3 linked regions of the Homo sapiens genome follow. The protein of the gene in region 2 interacts with the protein of the main gene of each other region in a biochemical or structural test. Each region holds a gene or a part of one and is shown on either strand. Other genes may lie near its edges.

The links.
Region 1: the proteins of PLXNA1 (region 2) and NRP1 interact in a test that uses a peptide from one of them, tested with the Homo sapiens proteins (one study listed by BioGRID).
Region 3: the proteins of PLXNA1 (region 2) and RHOD form a complex in vitro, tested with the Homo sapiens proteins (one study listed by BioGRID).

The regions. Positions count from the first base shown.
Region 1 is NC_000010.11:33,212,124-33,219,753, forward strand, and holds part of NRP1 (neuropilin-1 isoform a precursor), read right to left. Parts: intron 1,699-7,630; exon of another isoform or gene 1,595-1,698; coding exon 1,263-1,594; exon of another isoform or gene 1,115-1,262; intron 1-1,114. UniProt on the Homo sapiens protein: Cell-surface receptor involved in the development of the cardiovascular system, in angiogenesis, in the formation of certain neuronal circuits and in organogenesis outside the nervous system. Mediates the chemorepulsant activity of semaphorins.
Region 2 is NC_000003.12:127,013,711-127,021,340, forward strand, and holds part of PLXNA1 (plexin-A1 precursor), read left to right. Parts: intron 1-309; coding exon 310-406; intron 407-471; coding exon 472-665; intron 666-767; coding exon 768-919; intron 920-1,000; coding exon 1,001-1,121; intron 1,122-1,473; coding exon 1,474-1,610; intron 1,611-2,806; coding exon 2,807-2,974; intron 2,975-3,233; coding exon 3,234-3,327; intron 3,328-3,714; coding exon 3,715-3,954; intron 3,955-4,038; coding exon 4,039-4,182; intron 4,183-4,583; coding exon 4,584-4,818; intron 4,819-6,491; coding exon 6,492-6,634; intron 6,635-7,630. UniProt on the Homo sapiens protein: Coreceptor for SEMA3A, SEMA3C, SEMA3F and SEMA6D. Necessary for signaling by class 3 semaphorins and subsequent remodeling of the cytoskeleton. Plays a role in axon guidance, invasive growth and cell migration.
Region 3 is NC_000011.10:67,066,847-67,073,147, reverse strand, and holds the end of RHOD (rho-related GTP-binding protein RhoD), read right to left. Parts: coding exon 6,301-6,301; intron 2,724-6,300; coding exon 2,589-2,723; intron 1,714-2,588; coding exon 1,546-1,713; 3' UTR 1,131-1,545; downstream 1-1,130. UniProt on the Homo sapiens protein: Involved in endosome dynamics. May coordinate membrane transport with the function of the cytoskeleton. Involved in the internalization and trafficking of activated tyrosine kinase receptors such as PDGFRB.

The sequences.
Region 1 (7,630 bases), on a different chromosome or scaffold from region 2:
GTTTTGGTGGATGTTGGAATGGAATGTTTTTGTGTTGAGATTTCCTTTTCTTTTCACTGGATTATCAAGAGCCTACTGCATCTTAAAAGGTTTCAACGCATAAAGAAATATACTTAAGCATTATTCACAATAGCTAAAGGTGACAGCAATTCAAGTGTCCATCAGTGGCTGAATGGATAAACAAAGTGTGGTATAAACACACAATGAATATTATCCAGCCTTTCGAAGGATGGAAATTCTGACACAATGCTATAACACTGATGGCCCTTGAAAACATTATCCTAAGTGACATAAGCCAATCACAAAAAGACAAATACAGTATGAGGTCCCTAAAATGGTTGAATTCACACAGACAGAAAGTGGAGGTGGTCACCAGAGGCTGGGGGCAGGGGGACTGGGAGTTGTTGCTTAATGGGTGTAGAGTTTCAGTTTTGCAAGATGAGAAAGTTCTAGAGATTGGTTGCACAATATACACATACTTAACACTGTTGAACTGCACACTAAAAAGGTTAAGATGGGAAATTGTATATTATATGTATTTTATCACAATTAATTTTTTTTTTTTGAGACGGAATCTCACTCTGTCACCCAGGCTAGAGAGCAGTGGTGCAATCTCAGCTCACTGCAACCTCTGCCTCCCGGGTTTAAGCAATTCTCCTGCTTCAGCCTCCAGAATAGCTAGGACTACAGGCACACGCTGCCACACCCTGTTAATTTTTTGTATTTTAGTAGAGATGGGGTTTCACCGTGCTGTCCAGTCTGGTCTCGAACTCCTGAGCTCAGACAATCCGCCCGACTCGGCATCCCAAAGTGCTGGGATTACAGGCATGAGCCACTGAGCCTGGCCCACAATAAAAATTTATAAAAGAAACAAAGCACTTAAACTAGGGGTAGGTTTGAGATGGGGGGAGGGCAGACCCAAACGACTGAGTGGTATCTGCAAGGGGTTCTGAGCGCTGGCTGGATGGCTGCTGTCAGCCTTGGGCTTCCCCGTCTCCTGTCTGCATGTTGAGCTGTCTGTCCATCCCTACAGCCAGGGAATGGGACCAGCAATGCAATTCTTTTGCATGTTATCTCAGACATCACTTTTCATGCCATATTCCTGTCTTCCTAGAATCAAGGGTCTTACTGACCCCATCACACACCTCCTCTAATGTCATGGCTGGAAGGAAATAAGAAGCCCTTCCTCGGGAGAATGCCAGAGGCCCTTGATTGAAGTCAAGGACATAAGGGATGACCTCCTCCCAGTCCCCAGCCCTCACCTTCGCCTTGCGTTTGCTGTCATCCATGATCATCTTCCAGTCCGAGCCGTTGTTGCTGTACCCGATCTTGAACTTCCTCATGAACACCTTGTTCTCTCGGTGCTTCCCACCCTGAATGATGATGCCCCTCACGATCTTCTCCTCCCCCAGGTCTATTTGGAGCCACTCATTGATGTAGGAATGAGGTGCGGGTGGAAGTGCCCAGCCAGAGCGACTGGTTACCAGGCGGATGTTTTCAGGCATCCAGTTTCTGTCCCCTTGGTTGGATGATGTGATCTGGGAGTCAGAAATAAGTCCAGACACCATACCCAACATTCCAGAGCAAGGATAATCTGGGAAGTGAAATGAAACAGATAATGTAAAATGATTTCCTGGGCGACTCCATGCTAAGAAATAAAATACAACATATGGAATAAAGACATGATTTTGTACCCAATCATATACAATTTTCAGTCTCTGGATTATTTTACAGTAAATCTTTCCTCCCTCAAACCTTCCTCCTGCTCTGTCAGAATTCCCGTCTCTAAACTCACATCCCAGTAAGGCAAATCTTCAATAAGAACATACATTTCCCCCGCTTTGACATCTTCTAAGTTTAACATTCATATTTCAGTCTCTTTGGTATCCAGAATTCATCCCTGGATCAAGTACTGGCCCTGCTTAAGAGAAGTTCATAGTTTATGATGGATTGGAGATATGCATAGAAGTCAATCCGATAGCAGGAAGGTTGCTAAAACAAAGGTAAAGAGACAGTGATGCAGAGGTAAAGAGAACGAATGCATACTCAGCCTGCAGAGGTAATAGAGGACCTCCCAGGGGAGGTGGCATTTGAATTGAGTGTGGGAGAATAGTGACCATGATCCCCCACAACTGTTCTCCCCACCCCTATTTCTAATTGCATTGGGGACTTTCCACATGAATGTCTCACTGTCATCTCAAATGTACCACAAGCAGACTAAGACAGTCCTTTCCCCTGGATACTGCATCTTTTCACTGAACCCTGTCTTTTAATTGGTGGCATCACCAATCATCCACTTCCTGCCTAGTCATCTCGTCATTTCCGTTTTGCTGCCAAATCCTGTTGTTTTTATTAAGTACAAGAAAGCAACAGAACTCTTGTTGCTACCTTCCTTTCTTCTGGATTTATCCTGATCCGAGCGCTCTGGCCAGGGTGCTACATCAGCTCTTGGTTGGCCTCCCAGACCCCACTTTGAATCTCCACTACACCAACTGCTACTTAAATTTTCAGAAAATGTTGTTTTAAGCATGTCATTCTCATCCTCAAAAATCTCCACTGCTAAGTGAAAGAAGCCCAACAAAAAAAGGACAAATATGGTCTGATTCCATGGATAGGAGTAGCCTATCACTAGATCAGTCAGATTCGTAGAGACAGAAAGCAAAATGGTGGTTGCCAGGGCTTGGGGGAAATGGAGATTGGGAGAGTTAGTGTTTCATGGGTGCAGAGTTTCAGTCTGAGACAATTATAAAATTCTGGAAATAGTGGTGATGCTTGCACAGCAATGTGACTGTACTTAATGCGACAGAATTGTACACTTAAAAATGTACAATGATAAAATTAAAATGGTTAAAAGTGGTTGAAAATTGTTAAAGCGGTAAATTTTATGTTATGTATATTTTACCCCGACAATAGAAAAGAGATATCTTTTGAAAATGTACCATGGTTTTCCATTATTGATAGGAAGATATCAAAACTCGATCTGGCATTCAAGACCCTCATTTTGACTTCATCCCATTTGCCTAATTTGATTTTCTATTACTGACAATACATCTCAGTTAAGCAATTCTCTTCTCATACAGTCTAGACGTCATCCTCATCATTGCCTTTGCTCAAAACCCAGCTTAAGACTCATGAAGAGAACTTTTCAAGCTACTCTAGCTTTTATTCTGAGCTCTCCCTTCTCAGAAATATGATGTAAGTAGCACAGAGCTCAGCATTCCACTGCTCTCTAAGGCTTTAAGATTGTTAGTCATGTACCCACAGCTAGATTATAAGATCTTCAAAGGCAATGAACAGCATCATAGACCTTTTTATGTCTTCTAAAGCAGCCCAAGGAGCTTCTGAGCACAAGGAGAGTATCAGTTGTTGATGAATTCAACGCTGGCTTAATGACAAAATGTCCAACACTTCAAGTATTTTCCTTTAGAAACTGTACATCCTAATCAAGAACATGTGCAAGAATGATAACCTATTTTTCTTTGAAGCAACTCAATTCTGCGTTATATAATAAAAATTTAGCCTAAAAATATAACTACCCCTAAGTGAGAGGCAAACATCTAATGCAATTAAACTAAGTCCACATTATCAGCTGAACCTTAAGAATTCATTACTCAGATACTTTCCACATGAGTTCTATGGTCCAGATCATGTCGTTTCTTTACTCAGACATTCAGTGCCTTCTTGTCTAGAAATTACGCACGTCATTTTCAGTCAGGCATGCAGGCCTTCCATGTCATGTCCTTGCAAGGCCTCTCCCCATTCACTCCTTTAACCAGTGCCAATTGGCATGAAGAACTTCCTTACTTCTGGGAGTTTGGGAGCTTTCTTTCTGTTCCCTCCACAAGGAATTCCCTGTCATGTTACCCTTTTCCATTATCTGAACTGCTTAAAATCCTGACCTGTTTTCAAATGCCACATCGTTTACTCAGTTTTTCTGTTCTCTGCAACTGGACACAGTTTTCCATTTCTGGGCCTCTTCACACCATTTTATCTGCATTTCCCTTCTTTCTTTCTTTCTTTTTTTTTTTTTTTGAGAAGGAGTCTCGCTCTGTCTCCCAGGCTGGAGTGCAGTGGGGCGATCTTGGCTCACTGCAAGCTCCACCTCCCGGGTTCACGCCATTCTCCTGCCTCAGCCTCCCGAGTAGCTAGGACTCCAGGCGCCTGCCACCACGCCCGGCTTATTTTTTGTATTTTTAGTAGAGAGGGGTTTCACAGTGTTAGCCAGGATGGTCTCGATCTCCTGACCTCGTGATGCCTGCCTCGGCCTCCCAAAGTGCTGGGATTACAGGTGTGAGCCACGGCGCCTGGCCCCTCTACACCCCGGCCTTTTTTTTAATTTTTATTTTTAGAGACAGGGTCTCACTCTGTCACCCAGGCTGGAGTGGAGTGGTGTGATCATGGCTCACTGCAGCCTTGAACTCTTGGCCTCAAGCAATCCTCCCACCTCAGTCTCCTGAGTAGCTAGGACTACATGTGGATGCTACCATGATTGGCAATTTTTTTTTTTTTGGTCTCGCTATGTTGCCCAGGCTGCTCTCAAACTACTGGGGTCAAGAGATCTTACCATTTTGGCCTCCCAAAGTGCTGGGGTCACAGGCTTGAGCCACCATATCCAGCCCTCAAATGCTGATGAGCACATTTAGTTCTTTGGAATGCTGCTTTCTGCCTCCCCAGATTTTAACTTCTTTGAGGACACGAACTAAGTCATATTTTTCTGTTTTATATGACTCTTCATGCCCTGTTTTATACATAGTATTTGCTCAACAAATATTTGTTGAATGAATCAACTTAATACAATGAAAGGCAGCTGTCATTTTCTCAATTGCCCTTTCCTGTAACTTAACCACAGTATTTGCTCCAGGCTGGGATCTGGAAACCAAGAATATACTCAGTCGGGATTAAAAAAAGATTTACAAAAACAATTTTACTAAGGGACTATGAAACTGTAGTGTTAAAAATAGAGTGCCATTTTTTGGCCACGGTGTTCATACCTGCCTGATTCCAAACAAGCTTTTAGAAAGGCAATGTTTAGCTGGTAATGGGGACCAGATGTTACCATTTGGAGGCAAACATAATTAACTTGAATACTGTAAGGAGAGCAGAACCGTCACCAGATTAATGCCCTTTCTCTAATGCAGACTCGGCTGGGGCACAGTTTCTGTATTCATAGACTTAGTGATGCCCTGTCCCCATTTAGCCAACATATCCATGGTGCAAAGTGAGACTGTTATTCCTTCCATATAGCTGCCTCATTAAAAAAAAAAAAATGAAGAGGCAACTTGATTTACCTTTGACTGAAAACTATGTGACTCACTTTTAACAATAATTTGCAGAAAAATTACATTAACAATTAATTCAAGGTTTGAATGAGATGCTAGCGTTTAACTCTGTCCCTTCATAGCAGGCTGGTACAGGTCAGCCCGGTGCAGGTCAAACCCTTTGGAAATAGTGTTGCCAGATTTAGCAAATAAACAACAAAACAAGAAACAAGATGCCCAGTGAAATTAGAATTCAGAGAAATAATGAATAATTTTTTAGTACACATATGTCTCAAATATTGCATGGGACATACTTATTCTGAAAAATTATGTCTTGTTTGTCTGCGTCAAATTTAACTGGACATTTTGTATTTCACTTGGCAGCCTTGTTTGGAAAGCTTAAGACCACTTCAGGATGGAAGGGAGAAATGAGTTTTGTAATGGAGGATTGAGGTCGTTATTTTCAGTGATATTATTTTACAGTAAATCTCTGTACTCAGCTTTAATGGAAAAACTGAGGTATACTGGTAAATCAAATATCCAGTTAACCAATTTCCAACGAATGAGAAAGTAATAACTGCATTCGATGGGAGACCCTGAATGAGCATAATTTAATCTCTCCTTGATGACTCAGAAAGTACCTCTGGATATTATGGTGTCTGAGATCATCACTGTGAATTCTGATTGACTTAGGAGCACATGAATATGTGTTGAAGCGCTGGGTAACAGACTTCTGGTTAATAACAGAAGATAGCAGAGTTCAGAGTGTGTTAAGCAGCCATTGCCCAACGTGATTTCCATCTCTGCCAAAATGATGAAGCCTACTTTGTCAAAATAATGAAAATGCCCTTCATCAATCACCTATAAAGCAGAATGGTTTGTTCCAATCTTATTTTCTTTATATCTCTATATGGTGACAAACTCTGAATTTTCCAGGATTACTATATTTCTTTTTTCTTTCTTTTTTTTTTTTTTGAGATGGAATCTTGCTCTGTTGCCCAGGCTGGAGTGCAGTGGCCAGTGGCACAATCTCGGCTCACTGCAAGCTCTGCCTCCTGGGTTCACGCCATTCTCCTGCCTCAGCCTTCTGAGTAGCTGGGACTACAAGTGCATGCCACCACACCTGGGTAATTTTTTGTATTTTTAGTAGAGATGGGGTTTCACTGTGTTAGCCAGGATGGTCTCAATCTCCTGACCTCGTGATCCACCTGCCTCGGCCTCCCAAAGTGCTGGGATTACAGGAGTGAGCCACTGCGCCCAGTCCAGGATTACTATATTTCTAAAAAATAATTTCTGAATCAAAAAATTAGGGTAAAACTTGGGGCTTTAGTGGCTTTGGAAGCCAAGTGATGTGTTCAAGCAGTAACCTTTCATTAGGTAGGCTTAAACAAAATCCAGATTGAATTGTGACTACTCAGCAGGGTGAAAATTTGAGGTCCAGCCGCTTGTTTCTCAGAAGGCGTGCATAAAACTGCACTTCCTTCATTCAAAAGTAACCACCAAGCATTTGTTATGTTCCAGGCATACAGGACACAACAGAAAATGAGGCAAACAGGTCCCCTGCTCTCCTGGACCATCTAGTCCAGCAGGAATACTGTAGTCCTCCTTTCATTAATCTCTACTCAAGGGGACCTTTGATTTTCATTTCAAGAAAATGAAAATTATCTGCTTCTGATAATCAAGAAGAAAAACTTGAAATTACTGTCTTATTAGAGGCTCTGCTTGCTGGGGCATATGCTAGGTTCAATATATTGAGTGCCATGTACTATTTTAGTCTAACGGGTACCATTTAGTGAGCACTTAGTTTAAGCCAGGGGTGTTCCAAATTTCCTCTCATTGACTCCTCATTATAGTTGCATTAAGGTGATCCTCACAGACCAGAAAACGGAGATCAGAGTGAGTCTCAATGTCTTATCCATGGTCCGTCATGCATACACTAAGTGGACAGTCCACAGTCAAGCCTGGATATGTCTGCCTGCCTTCTGTCCATGTGACTATCGTAACGTGTTAGCCTCTCCAAAAACCTGCTTCTGGCAATTATTTGGAGACTAGAGACATTTTACTAGAGAGAAAATATTTAAAAGTATAGTGGAGACCATGATTAAGAGACTAGCACTAGGAACTGAAAGGAAGCACCTTATTTGAAAAATAGCTACTTAATTATGTATGAAAATATTAGGATATGCTATTTTAGACATCTAAGTTTACATAACTAGATCATTTAACTATTTTTAAAAATTGAACAAATTATTTACCTTCTTTGCTCACATTCCTAGCATCACCTCTCAGGGAAATCCTTGTGAAAATTAAAAAGGACAGTTTAGGTATAAAAAAAATTGTATTCAACTAAAAGGATGTGACATAAATCTCTA
Region 2 (7,630 bases):
GCCTGGCTGACTGTAGGGAGTGGTCAGAGGCTGCCTGTGGTTGGAGGTGGTCTCCAAGGGGGTGCCACAGAGGTGACTGTGGGAAGCACAGAGGTTCCCTTGGAAGGGCACCTCATATGGTTGCTAGCCTGGAGAGAGGGGGCTCTGGAGCCAGGAAGGAAGTCCTGTGTAGGATGAGGGTGGAGAGGGAGCGGTTGTGGCTGCAGAAACTTCCCCCTAAGCTGGCGCCCTGGTGGCTTTGTGGGCGTGAGGCTTGGGAGGCCTGGAGGCCGCTTAGCTGGGAAGCCTGACGGTGCCATCACCTAACAGTACTCCTACGAGGGGAACGATGTCAGCGACCTGCCAGTGAACCTGTCAGTCGTGTGGAACGGCAACTTTGTCATTGACAACCCACAGAACATCCAGGGTGAGTGGGCGCCCCGGCGGGGTGGGCAGTGGGCGGGCCCGAGCTGACCGCACCCCTCCCCACAGCGCACCTCTACAAGTGCCCGGCCCTGCGCGAGAGCTGCGGCCTCTGCCTCAAGGCCGACCCGCGCTTCGAGTGCGGATGGTGCGTGGCCGAGCGCCGCTGCTCCCTGCGACACCACTGCGCTGCCGACACACCTGCATCGTGGATGCACGCGCGTCACGGCAGCAGTCGCTGCACCGACCCCAAGATCCTCAAGGTAGGGCCCCCAGCCCTGCCCCCACACCCCATGCCCCGCCCTGCACCACCGCACACCCTACGCCCTGTGGGATGCCTGTACCCCAGCCTCTGCCTCCCTCAGCTGTCCCCCGAGACGGGCCCGAGGCAGGGCGGCACGCGGCTCACTATCACAGGCGAGAACCTGGGCCTGCGATTCGAAGACGTGCGTCTGGGCGTGCGCGTGGGCAAGGTGCTGTGCAGCCCTGTGGAGAGCGAGTACATCAGTGCGGAGCAGTGAGTGCAGCCCTGGGTGTGTGCGGGGCGGGACGGGACGGGGCGGGGCTCCTGCAGCCCCTGAGGCCCGCCTGCCCACAGGATCGTCTGTGAGATCGGGGACGCCAGCTCCGTGCGTGCCCATGACGCCCTGGTGGAGGTGTGTGTGCGGGACTGCTCACCACACTACCGCGCCCTGTCACCCAAGCGCTTCACCTTCGTGGTGAGTCTGCTGCCCTCCCTCTCTCCCTATTCTCTGCTGCTCTGAGAGGGTGCCGCTCAGGGCTTCTGTGCCTCTTCAGGGCCCCTTGTCTGGCCATGCTCTGCCACTGCTTTTCCACGGCCTGGGTGCTGCCCCTCCCCTCCTGTGCCTAGGCCAGCTCCAGGGCTCCCTGGCTCACCTTGGGCTGTGCCTGAGAAACCTGGAAGTACTGGCTCTGAAGTGCAGCTCCCGGGCATGCGGGCTCCTAGTCTGGGGAACTGTCTGTGGGGGTAAGCAGGCCAAGTGGGGCCTGTCCCCATGTGGCCCGAGGGGGACTTTCCTGAGAGTTTCAGCAAGTTCCCTCTTCCTGCAGACACCAACCTTCTACCGTGTGAGCCCCTCCCGTGGGCCTCTGTCAGGGGGCACCTGGATTGGCATCGAGGGAAGCCACCTGAACGCAGGCAGTGATGTGGCTGTGTCGGTCGGTGGCCGGCCCTGCTCCTTCTCCTGGTACGGGGTGCAGGTGGGGGTGGGGGCCTGGCTGCCCCTCCTCCTGTTTCAGATGGTTGCATGCCCCTTCTTGTTGCCTGGGCAACGGGGCTATGGAGAGCCTGGCTGGGGTGATCACTGTGAAACCCAGAGGCGGAGGTTACCATGGAAACAGGCTACCTCCAGAGTGGTAGGACTGGGCGGTGATGGGCGTGGGGCCTGCCTTTGTGGGGCGGGGCAACTTGGCTGCCTCTGCCCTGGTTCTTCCCTGTGGGGAAGGGGGGAATCCCTTGGGTACAAAATAAGAAGTATTTTTTAAAAATTTTTAAGAGAGAAAACAGAAATCTTAACAAAAGCCCTGAGGCTTGAAGTGGATAATTTTAGATTAGGGATGATAATGGAATGTCCCTTTAAATATTTTCCTATGGTAATTACCCGTTATCAGACTAATCATTGGTGTCTGCAGCTGAGGGGGCCTGGTGGCTGTGGGGCTCCTGGCAGTGGTGGAAGAACTGAGGGTCCGGACCCAGGTGTGGGCTATGCCTGGCTGCCTGCCCAGTGGGGTGTCCCCGTGACCCCCACCCAGGCCAGCTCATCTAGTCTCCTCACAGCCCCCTGGGATGCGGGGATAGGGCGAGGTATTCCCACTGGGACAGGTGCCGAGAGGGAAGGTGTCTGCCTGGCCCAGGGTAGTAGGAGTGGGTGCTGGGCTCCCAGCACTCGGAGCCCCGGCTGAGTGAGGCTGGCCCTGAGACAGGCAGGGAAGGTCGCGCCAGGGCTTAGTCTCGCCAGCCCTCCCCAGGGACAGAGGGAGGGCAGCATGAGCCTACCTCCCAGCCTGGCGTGCGTGGGACGGGCCTGCTGCCTACTGCCTCTGGGGAGGCAGAGGCCTGGTGGGTGTGGAGCCCTGGCCAGGGTCACCAGGAGTGGGTGTGGGCGACAGGGAGGCTGTGATGAAAGCAGACCTGGAGAGGCGGCAGGCCGGGTCCCAAATGCCAGGCTGGGCAACAGTGGGGGCCTGAAGGGGCTGGGAGCCAGGGCGAGGGTAGGACAGACATGCACAGCCCTGGGAGGGAAAGTAGCGGTGATAGTATGCAGCCACCCAAGGCAGTACCTGTGACAGATGGCGCTGTTCCCACCGTCCCTCAATGCATCTGCATTCCACCTGCCTGGGTTCCACCCGTGTGCTCCTCACTGTCCCACTCGGGCACCTCCAGGAGGAACTCCCGTGAGATCCGGTGCCTGACACCCCCCGGGCAGAGCCCTGGCAGCGCTCCCATCATCATCAACATCAACCGCGCCCAGCTCACCAACCCTGAGGTGAAGTACAACTACACCGAGGACCCCACCATCCTGAGGATCGACCCCGAGTGGAGCATCAACAGGTGGGGCCCAGCAACACCCATTCCCTATCCCCAGCTATTGAGAGCAGCGCTGAGCCAGGAGCTCTTCCACTGGGCACTTGGCGGTGGCCCTCCTGCATGCCGGGTACTATCCTGCCGGGAAGCACCCCTTGCCAAGAGCTTTTACCTGTTTCCTGTCTTTGGGGAAGGCAGGCTTTGCCTGGCTGAGCTGTGGCCCACGTTTCCAGCTCACTGGGCCCCAGCATCATTTGGTGACCCCCCCACCCCTGTCCTGTTCCAGCGGTGGGACCCTCCTGACGGTCACAGGCACCAACCTGGCCACTGTCCGTGAACCCCGAATCCGGGCCAAGTATGGAGGCATTGAGAGGGAGAACGTGAGTCCCTGCCCTCAGCTGCCCACCTCGGTCCAGGCCTTCACCTGGGATGGGGCTCCTGCTAGGAATACCCGTGTCCCTGCCCCTGCCCCTACCCCTGCCCCTTCCCAGCTTATGCCAACCTTGGCTGTGCCTGGAGACCCCTGGGGAGGCACCTGTCCTGCCTGGCGGGTAGAAGGTCTGGCTCTGGGTTGCTGGCTGCACACACCTCTCCTTCAGGCCACATGTCCCTGGTCCACGTCGGGTGGGTGGCCCAGGACCAGCCCTGCTAGTGCCTGGCATCATCTGTGCAGGGAGCAGGCAGCCCCCAGGCCAGGGGCTCTGTCACTGGGAGCTGCCGGGCCACTCGCGGAGGTCCCGCCCAGCATCCCCACCCTGTGTCTCCAGGGCTGCCTGGTGTACAATGACACCACCATGGTATGCCGCGCCCCGTCTGTGGCCAACCCTGTGCGCAGCCCACCAGAGCTGGGGGAGCGGCCGGATGAGCTGGGCTTCGTCATGGACAACGTGCGCTCCCTGCTTGTGCTCAACTCCACCTCCTTCCTCTACTACCCTGACCCCGTACTGGAGCCACTCAGCCCCACTGGCCTGCTGGAGCTGAAGCCCAGCTCCCCACTCATCCTCAAGGTGGGTCACCATTGCCCGTAGGCTGGGCCAAGCCAGGGAAGAGGCCCCTCGTCCTGGGCTCTGGCTCACCCCCATCTCCTACAGGGCCGGAACCTCTTGCCACCTGCACCCGGCAACTCCCGACTCAACTACACGGTGCTCATCGGCTCCACACCCTGTACCCTCACCGTGTCGGAGACGCAACTGCTGTGCGAGGCGCCCAACCTCACTGGGCAGCACAAGGTCACGGTGCGTCTGTCCACCGGGGGTGCAGAGCTGGGAGAGCCATGCCCCACCTGTGGACCCTGCCCCACTAGCACAGCCCCAGCTCTGACCTTGCCCGAGACTCACCCCTAGCTCAGAGGGCGCCCGGCTCCAGTGCAGGCCCTGCCGTAGCCTTCAGCCTGCCACCTCCTTGAGCCCCCCGAGACTGCCTACCCACCCTGAGCCCTTGCCATGCCAGTGGTGCCCTGGCTGGCCAGGCGCCTGCCCTGGGTCCCAGTGTCTCCACCCTGGTGACCACTCTGTGCCCCTGTCGGTGGGACCTTTCCCACAGGCAGGTGTTGGGGGTGGGTCTTGCCCATCGGGAGGGGCTCCCAAGCTTTGTGGAAAGCATGGGAAGCTCCTGAGTGGCCTCCACCCACTGGCAGGTGCGGGCAGGTGGCTTCGAGTTCTCGCCAGGGACACTGCAGGTGTACTCGGACAGCCTGCTGACGCTGCCTGCCATTGTGGGCATTGGCGGAGGCGGGGGTCTCCTGCTGCTGGTCATCGTGGCTGTGCTCATCGCCTACAAGCGCAAGTCACGAGATGCTGACCGCACACTCAAGCGGCTGCAGCTCCAGATGGACAACCTGGAGTCCCGCGTGGCCCTCGAATGCAAGGAAGGTCTGTTGGGGCCAGGGCTCACTGGGGCAACTGCCACCTCCGAGCCAGGCCCTGGCCTGTCCCCACACCTACTTCCCACCGCCGCCCCCACCCTGCTTCAGCTCAGTTTACAATGTTCCTGATAGCCTTGCTGTGCCAGAGCTGGTCCCAGGGCAGTGGGCGGGTGCCTGACCAGGGCCTGGCCCTGCAGCAGGTACCACCTCCTTGGGGTGCTGCTTGCGACACAGAACCCAAAGCCAGACTGTTTGCATTTGTATCCCAGCTGGGCTATAAGGCTGAAGGTGGCTACTTACCCTTCTGTGGCTCAGTCTTGTCGTCTCTAGAGTGGGCACAATGACAGTGCCTACTTTCCCTGGGTGCTGGGAGTCGTGGTGGGTTGGCTGGTGCCAGCGGAGCAGCAGAGAGGGGTGCTTCCACCATGCAGCAATGGGGAGCCCTTGCGCTTTGGCAGTCCCTGGGCACATAGAGATCTTGGCCTGAGCTGACCTTTGTCCTTGAGATGTCTATAGGGGGAGTCATGCCACACCATGCTCCTGATCAGGGCAGGTGTGAGTGGCAGAAATCTGTTCCATGCCGGGCGAGACTTTGAGCGTTTGCAGATAGTAACTCACACATGTTCAGGGCTCTAGGGGGCAGATACTAGGAGTGTTCCTGCTGCAGTGTAGGACCTTAGCCATGTGGTCCAGCATGGGGTTGTCATGAATTCCACTGGGACTCAACTGGGATGGGGTGTTTTGTTTGCACAGGACTCAGCCAGTCTTAAAATGCAAAGTTCTGCATCCTGGGAGCCCTCTCAGTCCCAGACAAACCTAAGTGGCCCTGTGGTGGGCTGAGGGTCACCCTACCTCTTGGGCAGCCCTGGTGGGACTGGAGGCAGGTGTGTGTTGGGGCCAGGTGGGAGGCAGGTGGCCTGGACCTCCCTTGTGCTCCCGCCTGCTGAGGCTGGCTGTCTGGCGAGGCTGGCGTGTGTGGATGCAGTGGCTGGTGGCTGCTCCAGGCCAGCCAGGTGCAGATAACTAGACGCCTGGCAGCGATGCCCAGGAGACGAAGACTCCAGCTCTTAATTAAACCTGTCAGATGTCCCCCAGAGCCTGCCTGGCACTCCTTTGGCTTCTGATCAGATAGCCTGATCCTCGGGCTGCCACAGGACTGACACCTCACAGCTCTGGAATGTTCTGTCAGGGCCTGCCTGCCTTTGTTCCTGACAGAGGCAGAGCTGGCCCTGAGCAGGGTGGGCCATGTTGAGGGTGCACCAGGCCCGAGATGTGCATGCAATGGTGTGGGGGCTTGGGGACAGCCTGCAGCCCTGGGACCTCACCCCTGGCCGCACTCCACCACCTCACAGCGGGTGGAAGGAGCCCGAACTCCAAAGCTGCTCTACGCTTAACTGCCAGTGTCTGAGATGCAGGAGGCCCTGCCCAGCCTGCCCCTGGTGCTGATGCTTTCTCTGCCCTTGTCTTGCTTGATCCTGTGGGAACCTTGCAGAGGAGAGTTACTATCCCTGTGCTAGGGCTGTAGTAGCTGGGGGACGAAGAGGCACAGTAGTTTCCTTAAGATCACGAAACCAGTAAGTGTCAGAGCCAGGATTTGATGTAGGCCCCAAGAGTGGGAGGGTTGGGGCATGGAGCGGGGCCACCAGGGCATGCTGCCCCTGACGCCGCATCTGGCCACAGCCTTTGCAGAGCTGCAGACAGACATCCACGAGCTGACCAATGACCTGGACGGTGCCGGCATCCCCTTCCTTGACTACCGGACATATGCCATGCGGGTGCTCTTTCCTGGGATCGAGGACCACCCTGTGCTCAAGGAGATGGAGGTAGGACCACTGGCTCCGGGGGGTCACAGGAACTCAGAGGCAGCTGCTATCTTCTGCCTTTGAGGCTCCTTGGGTGCTGATGGATGGTATGGGGCAGCCTGTGTGGCCTGGGGGAGGGTCCAGGCCTGCAGGGCTCTGGGCTCAGCCAAGTGGGGAGCAGGTGCTGGGAGGCAGAACCAAGACCAGGCAAGCACAGTGGAGCCCTGAGCCCTGGGGTTGGGGCAGGGGAATGGCCAGCACGGCTCTGCTCCATAAAGTACCTCCAGAGGGCAGGAGGAGGCTCTGGCCCCAGGGCCTCCGTGGGATGCCAGGCCTCATCCCAGCAAACCACTTGTCAGCCTGGGCTTCTGGCACCTCCCCGGTGGCTGCCCCTTGGGCCCTGCCTCTGTTGGGGGTCCCGCCTGCGGCTCCACTGGCCTGGTCTCCTGGGTGGCTCTGGATGCGAAGCCTCGCTGGGCAGGGGCCGTGTGCTGGGAGGTGCGGGTGCCTGATGAAGTCTGCTATGGCGGTTTGGGAGGGGAGCATGTGGCTGGCATAGCACCAGGGTCTCAGAGAGTAGGGCTTTGCCCCGTAGACCTTGGCAGCGAGCCTGGCGAGGGAAAAGAGGGCTGGCTCCCACACCCCTAAAAGGCCCCCAGCGGCAGGCAGGCTAGGAGCCAGTCCTTGGCGAGCCACGGCCAGGGGCTCGGCAGGTTAGCTCAGTCACACTCTCCAGCTGAGGGCACCCCCCAACCGTGTGCCTTGGATGTTGGGGAGCCCATGTCCCTTGTGGTGACTCTGTTGGTGGGAAGTCCCTTTTGAGCTGATACTGAGCAGACCTTCCCGCCTTGGGCCCTGGGCTGCCTGTGGCTGAGTGCTGCCATCCTGTTCCTGGGCTTGCTGCCACACGGGGCTACACAGCCTCCCCAGGTTGTATCTCTCTTTCAGTGCCTCCATTTGCTGTGTCTGTCACACTGTCTCTCTCAGCTGTGACTGTGTATGTTCTGCCTGGGCCAT
Region 3 (6,301 bases), on a different chromosome or scaffold from region 2:
CCACCACATCCAACTAATTTTTATATTTTTAGTAGAGACCGGGTTTCACCATGTGACCACTAGGCTGGTCTCGAACTCCTGACCTCAGGTGATCCATCCGCCTCAGCCTCCCAAAGTGTTGGAATTACAGGCGTAAGCCAACACACCCGGCCACTTTTTTTTCTTTTTTTTTTTTTTTTTCTGCTTTGTAGCCCAAGCTGGAGTGCACTGGTACAATCGTGGCTGGGACAGGTGTGCCACAGCACCTGGCTACACCTTTTTTTTTTTTGAGAAGGAGTCTCGTTGTGTTGCCTGGGCTGGAGTGCAGTGGTGTGATCTCGGCTCACTGCAACCTATTCTCCTGCCTCAGCCTCTGGAGTAGCTGGGATTACAGGTGTGGGCCACCACGCCTGGCTAATTTTTGTATTTTTAGTAGAGATGGGGGTTTCACCATGTTGGTCAGGCTGGTCTCAAACTCCTGACCTCGTGATCCACCCACGTCGGCCTCCCAAAGTGCTGGGATTACAGGCATGAGTCACTGTGCTCGGCCCTGGCCGAACCTTTTGTGAGCACTTACTGCGTGCTAGGCACCTACTAAGCTCTTTGCGTGTGTTGGTCCTCATGACCCTCTTACTCATCCGAAAGTTCCATGGCTTAGTCTGTGATCCATTTCACAGGTGAGGAAGCTGAGGCCCAGAAGAACTTGCCCAAGGTCGTGGAAGCAATAAAGCTGGTTTGGATCCAAGCAGTCCCATCCCAGTGCCTAGATGGGGTGGGCTTTTACCTACCTTGGAACGTGTGTGTAAAGACACCTTGAAACAAGAGGCATAGGCAGGGCGTGGTGGCTCATGGCTGTAATCCCAGCACTTTGGGAGGCCGAGGCGGGTGGATCATGAGGTCAGGAGTTCGAGACCAGCCTCACCAACATGGTGAAACCCCGTCTCTGCTAAAGAAAATACAAAAATTATCCGGGTGTGGTGGCGCGCGCCTGTAATCCCAGCTACTCAGGAGGCTGAGACAGGAGAATCGCTTGAACCCAGGAGGCACAGGTTGCAGTGAGCTGAAATGCGCCACTGCACTCCAGCCTGGGCGATAGAACGAGACTCCGTCTCAAAAAAAAGAAAACAGAAAAAAGAGGCACGACACAATGATAAGTGATGTCGTTTTTCTTGTTACAGTTACCAGTATGACAGGTGGGAAGGGGCCGGGTGTGGGTTCTGGCCAGAGGGACCTAAGAACATTAGGTCCTGGCAGGTGCAGCCCTGGGAGCAGCCACGAGGGGGCATCAGGCTGCACAGGCGGCTCCAGGATGTCGGTCCGGGACCGGGCATAGGGGTTAGCGAGTGATTCTCGGGCACCGCAGGACGAGCCCTACACAGAGCAGGTGGGCCCAGGAACCCCCTTTCTCAGTCCAGGACTCCCAGGCCTCAGGGCCTGGCTTTGGTGGCGCCCGTCTGTTGCAGTGGAGTTCGGCGGTCACAGCCTAGGGACCGGGTCCAGCCCAGCCAGCTCAGCAGCAGGTCAGCGCCCTGCCCCTTCCCGCGTCGCTGGGACGCCCCGAGCCGCTCAGGTCACCACGCAAAAGCCCTGGGTAATCCGCCGCCAGAAGTTGCGACCGCGGCTGCTGAGGGCCACCTCGGCGGCCTCCTGGAAGACGGCGTGGACGTTGTCATGGAGCCGAGCCGAGCACTCGAGGTAGGCCACCGCGCCCACGGACCTCGCCATCTCCTGGCCCTAGAGGGAGAGGTGGATGGGGCTGCGGTGAAGGGGGCACTGGGCAGGCCTCACGTTCTCGCTTCCTTTTCCCGGACAAGAGTGGAAGGTGGGGTCTGCGGAGCACCCATGGCTCCCGTATCCCTGCTTGCCCAAGCGCCCTCATGCACTTCATCATGTTTGTTTTTCTTTTCTTTATTTTTATTATTATTATTTTTTTGAGACGGAGTCTTGCTCTGTCGTCCAGGCTGGAGTGCAGTGGTGCGATCTCAGCTCACTGCAGCTCCTCCAACCGGGTTCAAGTGATTCTCCTGCCTCTGCCTCCAGAGTAGCTAGGACTACAGGCACCCGCCACCACACCACTTGGCTAATTTTTTGTATTTTTGGTAGAGACAGGGTCTCGCTATTTTGCCCTGGCTGGTCTCGAACTCCTGACTTCAAGTGATCCACCCACCTCGGCCTCCCAAGTGCTGGGATTACAGGCGTGAGCCCCTGCGCCCTGCCAGCCTTCGTTGTTTTTAACCTCCGTTCTGGGCCTCTTTGCCTCTCAAGGCACCAAGAAATGAACTTCCCATGAACCCAGACGTGTAGCAGAGAGGGACCCACGGTCTGAATATGTGGGTGCCTGCCTGGGCCCCCTCTCTGGGTCTCAGGTTGGTGGTGGAACTGACTCTGATATGCCTACTTCCTTGTTCTCCCTTTTGCCTGTGGAGGCTCCCAGAATATTCTAGGGACCATTTCTAAGTGCTGGAAGTTTCTGACCTCTGACAGCCTCTAAGACGACCGCAGCTCTGACCTACACCCTGAGCGTTCTGGACACCTGGTGCCACTGAGAGGCATCCAGAGGTCCCCTCACTCAGTCCTCCCCAACTCCCACCTCGGGCTGGGTTTCCTACCCTGTGGTAGGTCACAGGCTCCAATCCGTTTCTTCGGAGCTTGTTCACCAGTGATTTGTCCTTGCGCAGGTCAGTCTTGCAGCCCACGACGATGATGGGTACCTTCTTGCAGAAATGATTCACTTCTGGGTACCACTGCAGGGGGGCGAGGGGGCATGTGGGGGGCATGTGTGAGCCCTGGAGAGTTCTGGCCCTCTCAGTGGACCACTCTCTTGCTCCCCAGCCTGAGCTCTGATATGGATAATCAGCAAAGCCAGCACCTAGGGAGAAACTATTTGGTACCAGAACCTCATCTAAGAATTTACACGTATGGACCCATTAATTCCCCGAGGCCGTGGCAGCAAGTTCACAACCAATCCCACTGTACAGGTGCGGTAACTGAGGCACAGAAAGGCGATGTAACTTGGCCTTGGCTGGAAATGGCAGGATTTGAGCCTGGGGGTGGGGCTCAGAACCCTGCTCCTGCCGTTCTAGAATCTTTCCTCTCTGCAGGGTAAGGGCCCTCATGGACACCCACCAAACTGAGCAAAACATATAAGGAAGTAAGGGATCCTTTAAAAACAAATCTGGGCCAGGTGTGGTGGCTCACGCCTGTAATCCCAGCACTTTGGGAGCCTGAGGCAGGTGGAACACCTGAGGTCAGGAGTTTGAGACCAGCCTGGCCAACAGTGAAACCCTGTCTCTAGTAAAAATACAAAATTTAGGTGGGCATGATGGCGGGTGCCTGTAATCCCAGCTGCTCGGGAGGCTGAGGCAGGAGAATGGCATGAACCTGGGAGGCGGAGGTTGCAGGGAGCTGAGATCGCGCCACTGCATTCCAGCCTGGGCGACAGAGTGAAACTCCATCTCAAAATAAATAAATAAATCAATTAAAAAGATAAAAATAAATCAATCAATCCAGGCCGGGCTCGGTGGCTCACGCCTGTAATCCCAGCACTTTGGGAGGCTGAGGGCAGGCAGATCACCTGAGGTCAGGAGTTCGAGACCAGCCTGGCCAACAAGGGGAAACCCCGTCTCTACTAAAAATACAAAAATTAGCTGGGCGTGGTGGCGTGCACCTGTAGTCCCAGCTACTCTGGAGGCTGAGGCAGGAGAATCGCTTGAACCTGGGAGGCGGAGGTTGCAGTGAGCTGAGATGGAGCCACTGCACTCCAGCCTGGGCTACAGAGTGAGACTCCGTCTCAAAAAAATAATAAATAAATAAATCTGCTCACAAAATGGTTGCAGCAGCTGTCTGCCTCAACTGCTTGCCTGGTGGAGGGAGGGCTGCTCTGCAGAATGTGAGGCCACCAGGGCCGAGTTCTTTCAGCCTGGACTACAGCTGGGGAGCCGGGGATCCCGGGAGGGGGCTTCCTATCTCCAGGAGCACTAAGTCGGCTGAAGTCGGCTGGTTTGGGCATGAAACTTGCCTGATAAAAATTGGCATCAGCCGGGCTTGGTGGCTCAAGCCTGCAATCCTAGCTACTCGGGAGGCTGAGGCAGGAGAATCGCTTGAACCCAGGAGGTGGAGGTTGCAGTGAGCCCAGATTGTACCACTGCACTCCAGCCTGGGAGACAGAGTGAGACTCTGTCTCAAAACAAACAAACAAACAAACAAACAAAAATTGGCATCAAACTACCTCATTCCTGGAAGCAAATGGGGCCTTTGTGGGGTCCCTGGCAGATTCCCCACACCCCCGCATCCACCGAAACTGCCCATGAGAAAGGTTTCCTTGGTGGCTCCCACTGAACCCAGCAGTGAATCCTCTCTTTTTTGAGACAGTCCCGCTCTGTCGCCCAGACTGGAGTGCAGTGGTGCGATCTTGGCTCACTGCAACCTCCGCCTCCCGGGTTCAAGCAATTCTCCTGCCTCAGCCTCCCAAGTAGCTGGGTTATAGGCATGTGCCACCACGCCCGGCTAATTTTTGTATTTTTAGTAGCAACGGGGTTTCACCATGTTGGTCAGGCTGGTCTCAAACTCCTCAAATAATCCACCCTCCTCAGCCTCCCAAAGTGCTGGGATTACAAGGCGTGAGCTACCGCACCCGGCCACCATCAGAGAATCCTTAGCCCTGCTCCTACTGATCCCTCGATAACCCCGACCCTGGGCATCACTCCCTCCTACCTGACTGAGCCTGCACTTCACCCCAGGACCCCACTCTCCTGGCTCTCCTAGGTCTTATGGGGCCTTGCCCTCCTCCTCCTCTCCCTGGGGTTCAGCCTGTGGTCTTTCCTCTCCTCTAGCTGCTCTCCCTTCCTGGGCAGCCTCCCCCAGGCTTTACTGCACCCGTAGCTTCTAAATGTGCAGCTGCATTTAGGCTGCCCAGCTGGACTGCCTGCTCGGAGGAACTGCAGACGCATGCATCGCACTGCCTGCCGGACACCTCCACTAGGATGTCCCACTCCCGAACCCAGCTTGCTCCTTGTCATCTTGGCCAAGGGCAACTCCACCTTCCAGCTGCTCTGGTAAAAACTCCTCCCAGGCTGGGCGTGGTGGCTCACGCCTGTAATCCCAGCACTTTGGGAGGCCGAGGCGGGCGGATCACGAGGTCAGGAGATCAAGACCATCCTGGCTAACATGGTGAAACCCCGTCTCTACTAAAAATACAAAAAATTAGCCGGGCGTGGTGGCGGGCGCCTGTAGTCCCAGCTACTCAGGAGGCTGAGGCAGGAGAATGGTATCAACCTGGGAGGCAGAGCTTGTAGTGAGCCGAGATGGCGCCACTGCACTCCAGCCTGGGTGACAGAGCAAGACTCCGTTTCAAAAAACAAACAAACAAACAAAAAAACTCCTCCCTCCCACCCACATCCAATCCAACAAGAAACTCTGATCATCAGCAAACTCCGCCTTCTAGACCGATTCAGAATCAGCCCCCTTCTCGTCACCCCCACTGCTAGCACCCTGGCCCCAGGCACCACCATCTCTCCTGGTACCCAATGCCCAGAACAGCACCAGAACGAATGTGCTCAATCATTCGTTCTGAATGAATGGGCGGAGCAGCCTGCCTGGGTTCAAATCCCAGTGTTACCACTTTAATAGATGTGTATCTTTGGACGAGTGACTGGATCCGGGAATAATAATACTCCATAAGGTTGGCCGGGGGAGTAAATGAGTAAATACATGCAAGTACCAAGAACACTGCCTGGCACGTGGTCAGTCCTTAAAATTGTCACCGTTGTTGTTGTTGTTGCAAATACTGTCATGGGCTGTACCCTGCGGAAACTCGGAGGCCCTGGCAGCAGTGGGTGAGGGGCTGTGCCATGGCTAAAGGCAGCTGGAGCAGAGGAATTCAAGGGGCCACATCCCTGATGCCCATGAGCAGCCTCTGAGAACCAGCAGCCACGCAGAGCTGCTGGACTCTGACTTGACTGTTCATGCACCTTGGGCGGGCACAGGCTGGGGAGATGTAGCAGCCTCTGGCTCACCCAGCAACCTCAGGCAGAGCCGCCGTGGGAAGAGCCACAGTGTTCGGAGTCTGCAGCATAGGGTAGGCAAGGAGCACTGTACTGGGAGTCAGAAGGGCAGACGCTGCCACCAAATCCCTGTGCCAGCAACCCTGGGCAAGCCACTGCCCCACTCTGAGCCTCAGTTTCCCCATATATACACCAAAAGCTCTGGAATCAATATCATTTTGGGCCTGCCAAGCTCTGACAGTCAGCTGGGTCGAGGGTGGGTGGCAGAGTGGAGTGGCCTGGCTATGGGGGCTATGCCTCCCTGCCCCCCAGTACCTACC